2 linked regions of the Homo sapiens genome follow. The protein of the gene in region 1 interacts with the protein of each later gene in a pairwise test. Each region holds a gene or a part of one and is shown on either strand. Other genes may lie near its edges. The genes, in order: HSFX2 and MAL2.

Region 1 (3,915 bases):
GTGACCTGGTCATTCTCATTCGGAGACGTGTGATCTTGTTGCTCAGTGTCTGCTGGTGCCAGACAGGATCCAGCAGCTTCTGGCTTGTCCTCCTCCTGATGTCTTGGTGCAGACTTGACACCCACTCTTCTCTTCATCCTCACGAGGAGGTGAGGGGAGTCTCTTTGAAAGTAAGGATGGCAGTAGAACTCTAACTATAAGTCAAAGTTTAAATAAACAAAAGGAAACTGCAAGTCACAAGGATGGACTACAACTACCAACCATCTACGCCCCTGTGCAAGAGAACTCTACTGGCCCAGGAGGCCTTTCTGGAAAAGGTCCCAGTCCCCAAAGGAAGCTGGGGACTCGCGTTCACATCGTCAAGGTTTACCAAGTTGTGGCGGGCCTTTCCGTCTTGGAAAAAGCCTCAAAATGGCAGATTAGGGTGTCCATGGCCGGCGGAAAGGGTCTTTGAAGTTGCAGACCAGGAGGGAAGAAGATTCTGGGCCTCCCCCATGCAGTGTCAGCTGGCAACAGAATGCACCCCGGCTGGGTTGGAGGCCCTGGGTACTGGCTCTTCCACACCAGGGGCCCACCTACCAAGGGCAGCAGGAGCATCTGCACCTCCTGCGCCAGGCGCCCTTCAGTGCTTCCACTTGAGCACCTCTCCAGACACCAGCTAGGGTGACAGTGGTACAAATACCAGACTCCCCTGGCCTGCTCACCTCACAGGGTAATGTGCTGTGGAGTCAGGGGGACACAGCAACCGCCAGATGACATGGCTGGCCCCGGGGAGGACGACACGCAGATACGGCTACTTGGCACCTGTGATATTTTACACACTCGAGAGGGGCCCGCACCATCCTCAGCCCTCTCCCCACATTCACTCTTAGTTCATGTCACCTCCACCCAGAGGGGGACACAGGCCCACAGCGATGGCCCCACACCCTGCCTGAGGTCGCCCACTTCCCAGGAGGCAGTCCTGGGACTTCCACCCGACCAGGCCCCAGAGCCCACCGACTTAACCCCTCCAGAGGCTTGTCGTTCATTACCTTATTCAAGATGGAGACCAGCCTTTTTGCGGAGAAAATGCGGGTGAAGGTCCTGAAAGTGCATTGACGCCGTTTTCGGAAGCCATACAAGTTTAGCTGGCGGAAGAAGCTCTTTATCGAAGTTGTGGCAAACACTTTGTGTGCGACGTCCCTTTTGAGAATCTCCTTTTCAAAGAGTTTTTGATTGATCACTCTACAAGCCCCACTGTCATCCCACCAGATGGACGAAAACTGGTTGCTGCTGACCAGTCTCCACAGTTTCTGTGGAAAGGGGAGGGAGAGGAGATTATCTTCTCCCTGGGGCGGGACGTCACCGTCAGGGTGCGGCCTTCTGAACGAAGCTTCCTCGGCCAGAGGTTGGAAAGCGATTTCTTCTGTCAGCAGCCTCAAGTTAGGGCTCCCAGTGGACCCCGGGTCGTCCCAGGCAGGGGAAGGATCTGCTGGGTGAAGGTAGGTCTCTGACTGCAACTGGGGAGGGAAAGGCACCCTTTCCAAGCCATGATCCTGTCCCCTCGAATTTCTTTCTTCACAGCGAGCCATACTCAATGATCGCTTGTCCTCCATCTGGCAAACTTGCTAGTGCAGTGTGGCCAGCAGCACCCCTTGGCAGTCATGTAACCAGCCCCATGACATCATAAAGGGGCTCTGACTGCCGGGGGGTGGCATCTCCACCCCCAGCAAGTTGTGTAATAAAGGGCCAAGGCAGACAAGTAGCTGCCCATCTGCATGTGCACATTCTGGTCCTCACAGTCATTTCAATGGGAAAGATGACACTAGTGCACAAGAGTGCCGAGGGGCCCTGCCACACCGTAGATGCAGACCTGGAGCGGTCCCCTTGTCCTAGAGCTCCTGAGCCAGGCACAACTACAGCAAAGCCCTGGCTCAGGAAGGTCAGAGCTCACCGTCTGAGTCATGGGCCCACAGACCCCAGCACATGACTGACACTCGGAAGCACAGAACAAAGGGTAGGACGGTGCCCATGGGTCAGGCTGTAGCCACGCCACCCTTTCCACCCTGTCCTAGCCAGAGGCAGCAATGTGCTCCATACAGATCCTCCTAACACACCCACACTGTCGGTCCCCAGCACGCAGATGCCCGACAGCCCCTTAGGCAAATGGCTTAGCTGACTGCCCCACCACACGCCGTCGCCATGCAGTCCAGTGGGGAGTCGGAGGCAGCCTCCTTCCTGCCTCTCCTCGGCCTGCACGTGTCCCCCCACCAGGCAGAGACCCTTCTACACCCCGGGTGTCTGCGGTCACATCGCGGTGGGGCATGCAGCTGTTGGCCTTCGAGCATGTTTTGTTTTCCTTGGCCAGTGTCTCCAGAGAAACGCACGTGGGTTTGTGTCCAGCGGTCCATCTCTGCAACAGTTGTTCCTTTGGGATTGGATGCTAGGAGGTCACGGGAGAGGTGTCCATCCAAAGCAGTGTCTGTGTCACACACTGTCCCCACACACAGGGCCACCTCTGCACAGACTCCCCCGACTCGATTCTGGGCACAGAGCTCAGTGACCTTCCAGAGACTGCCACGAACCGGTGATGCCTCCACGCTTGAGACATCCTGACCGCAGGGCCCAAGGCGCACTGGCTCAGGGGGTGACAGTGAGGGGTCTGCAAACAGACTGCTGATGCTCAACCCGGCCGCTGCCGAGCTGTGTGACTTGGGCACGTCACTTAACCTCTCTCGGCCTCTGTCTCCTCCCGGGGATAAGAGTAGTAGCACCTGCTTCCCGGGGCTGTGAGGATCCAGTGGGACGTATAGGAACTAGCGAGGCACCGGCAGTTGGGTCAGAGCTACTGTTGTCACTTCACAAGGCATTTTCTTCAACAGCAAGTCGGAAATCTCATGAGCCTAAGGCAGAATCCACCTGTGGCCTCTGGTTACAACCCACAGGACTGAAAATCCTTCCAGCCACAGCAACTGGTGAATTTCCTGGTCAATTGCCACAAGTCATGAGCTGAACCCCACTTGAGTTTCAGTTCAGGCAGAACTCTAGAGACGACTAGGGCAAGCTAGACAGCGACTGCAGAGCCTTTTGTTGCAGCGTGAGCAGTCCTCAGCTGTTGACATCACTGGGGAGCAAACGAGGACCAGGAGCGGTGAAAGGACAGTGTCTGCTGCAGATTGTCGTAGCACCCAAGGAACACTCCAGAAAGCCTCCTAAGCAGTAACAAGTGTGGCAAGGTGTAGCCCAGCCAACAGTGGCATCTGCGAGGCGTCCCCTCCTTCCTCCCACTACCCCGTATACCCTGGGACCTGTGCACTGAAGGACTCATTCTAAAGGCTGTGCCCCTGCAGCCGCCAGCCTCACTCACTGGCTGCCTGTGCCAGCTAGAGATTTCTTTCCTCTGAGGCTGGCTGAGAGGACCACTCCAGTTTCCTGGCCCATCCAGCAAAGAAGATACACATCATGCACGTGTAAAATGAGGAACCGGTTTATTGAACAGCTTAAGGAGAGCAAAAATAGTGGCTTTAGCTACATTTTTTACACACTGAGCAGGAAAGTCTAAACCATCCCGTTCCCCTGTACCCCAAAGAGAACAGGGCTTGCTGGAGGCCAGTGCCAAGGGCGGAGTCGTGCTCGCAGCAGACTTGAATTAACCCCATGTAGGCCGGCGAGCAGTTGCCCGCGTGAAAACACCACCCTCTTCTCCTGGCTGAGAAGATCAAAGCTCTTTTTTTACCCTCTTTTCAGCAAAGGACCTATTTGTTTTCAGGCAGGAGGATGTTAAACTTGCAGCCTCTGACACACGGTGGAACCTGCAGTGCTTGGAGAAACGGCACGCACACGTGAAAACATCATGCCTACTCCAAAGCCTTCTTGTTGCTGGCAGGAGGGAAGCTTGAGACTTTCCCACGCATAGTCGTGACCCGCGTGGCCGTT
Region 2 (3,815 bases), on another chromosome or scaffold:
ACCTACTGCTAGGTACTATAGAAGAACACTCAAGAAAAAACAAAAAAGGCAAGGTTCCATCTCCAGGAGCTTGAAATAAGGAAGAAATAGACACTATTAAACTGATTCAGGAGCAGATTGCGGTGGGTGCTATAAAAAGAGCTCAACACAGTGTGTTCTGAGAGGCTGGGAGGGGAGAGGAGAGAAGAAATATAATGGGAAGAATCTGGAAAGGTAGGCAGGGGAGGCAGGCTTCAGAGTAAGCTTTCAAGACAGACCAAGGCTTTGACAGCAGAGGCTATACTGTAAAATAGTATAGACTAACCGTTCTTATCGTACTCAAAATTACAGCCCTTCAAACACCTCAAAGGCTTGGAAGGGAAACTAAATGCTGCATGAACAGGAGTCAGATTCACCTCCTCACTTGTGGGGTATGTGCTGCATGGAAAGGGGAGAGGGAAGGAGTGTAGGAATGCCCCCTCTCTCTCACTCAAGTAAATACATATGATACATCCCTAGAGCTGAGATTCTGTGAAATCCAGGCTCGCTTTGGAAGAGAGAGGATGGGCCAGAGAACATAATTGAGCCCACTTTGGAGGGCCACCATCCTCATTTTGAGACTGTCATACTGGTGTATGGATCACTCTGGCCTTGACACAGTTATTATTCCCTACTTTGTGATTTCCTTTTGACAAAAGCTACTTTTCTTCTTGAGCTTCCCAACTTGGCTCCAACTTAAACTTGGCTCCAGTTTTTTTAAGTTAAAAAACTGAACTTAAAAAATTGAGATGACCAATGCTCAGTATATTCACTTCCTCTAATTCCGGGCATTAGTGAGCTTAGAGTGTTTGCAAAACGGTGTAATTATCAGCATTCCTGTTCAGTAGAGACGACTCTGGAGGTGGCCATATTTTTAGAAGTAAAAAGCAGAACACAAAAATGGTTAAATCTGACAGAGAACAGATGATAAATACAGTAGCAACTGCAGAGTACACACTGTGAAGAAAGGTATTCGGAACTATTATATGTTTCGCCCACGTTATTCTCATCGTCTTGGATCTGAATCCATATTCTGACCCCTTCCCTGCCACTGCCTTCCACTGCTTTCTAGTGTTCTAAAAAATCCAATAATTATGTATAAAATAGCCAAAGGCACCTCAATTTGAAATTTCTTTAAGAAACTAAGTCAGTGCTTATGACGTCAAACCTCAAGCTCTAACAAAAAGACTACCTTTGCTTCCAGGCAATACAAAGGTAAAAACCTCCTAGGAGTAGGTATCAGCATCTCCCGGTGACTCAGTCACCTTTTATCTTCTTAACCCAACTTTAGGTGTACTGGGTACATACCAGAAGTACTCAAATATATTCTGAGTTGCAGTTATTAAATTGCTACACATTCCTAAAACAACTGATCTTCTTTCTGGTTTAACACATGTTTGTTATGTTTGCTTGGTCTCTGCAGACCAGAAAGGTATGACTTGGCTGAAACCCTACCATAAGAAAACCACGGAAGTATTTATCCACAAATCACACTAAACTGAATCCTCAGGGTTTGATGTGAAGACATGTTTTCACTAGAAACTGTGGAATGGGAAAAATACATAGTCCCACGGGAAAACATGCTCTTGAGCAAGTAGCAACTCTTGCAATTCTGGGTGCATGAATTACAGATTCTTAACTCATCTCCTGTTTGGACGGTCTTATGTTCCCAAAGGGTTCCTTTTGCAAATGCCCTTTTTCTTTTCAAATGTCACTTATTTCCTAATTACCTGCTTTTAAACATACCCTCTGACAGCTAAAAATTTTTTCAAACCAATTTGACACCTCCATCTTAGTATACCCACAAAGTAAACCGGCTAATTTCTACTGTGACCTATTTTCAATTAATGTTTGGAATGAGAACAGGAAAAGGTAAGTGAATTTGAAAGGATAAAGGCTGGCTAAACTACCCATAAGGGAAAACACTATTTAGAACTTTCCGTATTAAGCTCCCTCCTTCTAATTCTATTATCTATATATTGGATAATTCATTATTCTACTGCAGTGAGAATGAACACCCAGCAAACATAGAGGAAAAGCAAAAAAATATTTGTCTTCCAGTCTGGCTTGTAGAGTTAGAGTAAGAAGTTGAAGCTAATGGTGATAGCAGAAATAGTACTTAACATTTACTGAGCTCTTATGTTATAAGCACCGTTATAAGGGTTTTATTTGTGCCAATTTAATCCTCACAGACCTTGAGAGACAACATTATTATTCCTACTTTATAGGTAAGTTAATTGAGGTACAAATCCATTCATAACTTGTTCCTAGTTATATAGTTAATAAGTGTTAGACCTGAAATTTGAACTTGGCAATTGGCTTCCAGAACTTATGATTTTAACATTCTGCTATTCTGCCCCTCTCATGGTTTAGTGTTCATTCTAAAGCAGGGTTTCTACCCATATTCCATATGATTTCCTAAAATCATATAAAATTGGGTGGACAAGTACATATGCATTTTTCTGAGGACACAGTCCACACCTTTCATCAGAATCACAAAGGGGTATGTGGCCCCCCCACCCAGAAGTTCAGAACACTTTATCTACTTGTAACCCCTTCTATTTTAATGGATGTTTACTTATGGGGTGCTGCACAGGAAACATCATGGTTATAGAAGTGTTCAGTATATTCAGAAATTTATCAGCTAGAAAAAAAAAGATTATCTACAATTAGCTATATTTTACATACAATTCGCATTTTGAAAGATTTCCTTAAACTAGAAACATACTTAGCCAACACATACAATATAACTGGTAGATGTATTTACAAAGCAGCCCACACAAGTATGGATTCATTCACAATGCGACTGTAGATCACTGGTACCACTACAAGGCATACTGCTGCCCCCCTCCCCAAGCTCATCATCTTCCCTGTAATGCTTCTTTTCCTACCACCCTCTCTTTGCATTCCAGCCTCTACCCCTCATCCCCTGAGCATAGAGAAATGATCACACTTGACCATGTTTCTGCCTAGCATGCTGCCAGTAAAAATTCTGCTGCATAACTAAACTCCAGTTACCATGTTTTCCAGAAAGACTTCCCTGGCCAGGTGCCATCCCTCGGTGCTTCCACGGTTACTGACGCGTGTATTCTCCACAGCAATTACAACTGGATCAAAATCATGGATCTACATGCCCATTTCACCCACTAGACTGTGACGTCAGAGTCGGTGACATTGCCTTCAACATCTCCGTATGCTCATTACCCAGGGTGGTGCTTTCTACAGAAGGTCCTCAATCCATCCTCCTTGAAATGAATGGAAACCAACCGGCATGTGTAATGAATGGTTCCAAAAGAGAATGCTCTAGGAGTGCAGCTTGGGATGCTAGGAACACACTCCGGTCTGGAGCCCAGCTCACTCCCTGGTTCATGGTGGATGTCCAAAAATAGGCATGAAAACGAGTGAAGCGAGAATATGTACTTCTCAATTCTCAAGTTATTATTGGTGACACCCACCACCTAGTACCAGATCTCAGGAGGCTGAGATGGAAAGTTATGGGAAACTTTGTACCTCTTGCCAGTTGAATTCATGACACCCAATTTTAAATCTTTTTTCGGCCCCAAATTTGCCCACATGACCTATTTCTATTGTAACTGCCACTGGAACTTTTGACCAGGGTAAATCTTGTGCCTTCTTCCAGTGCCTCCTGCTCCCCTCATCAGTCCCCATCTGTCCTCTAACCATGCTGACTTCTGTCCAAACTGCTTCTGGACTGGCCCTGGCATAGACCTGCATTAGAGATGCAAGGCAGCAAGGTGTTTATTTATTTAGTTAGTTAGGAAAACAGAACAAATTCT

The links.
Region 2: the proteins of HSFX2 (region 1) and MAL2 interact in binary tests that used the Homo sapiens proteins (3 or more experiments, as listed by UniProt).

Annotation. Positions count from the first base shown.
Region 1 is NC_000023.11:149,593,106-149,597,020, forward strand, and holds the start of HSFX2 (heat shock transcription factor, X-linked), read right to left. Parts: upstream 2,210-3,915; 5' UTR 1,596-2,209; coding exon 1,032-1,595; intron 195-1,031; coding exon 1-194.
Region 2 is NC_000008.11:119,214,861-119,218,675, reverse strand, and holds part of MAL2 (protein MAL2), read right to left. Parts: exon of another isoform or gene 3,049-3,815; intron 1-3,048. UniProt on the Homo sapiens protein: Member of the machinery of polarized transport. Required for the indirect transcytotic route at the step of the egress of the transcytosing cargo from perinuclear endosomes in order for it to travel to the apical surface via a raft-dependent pathway.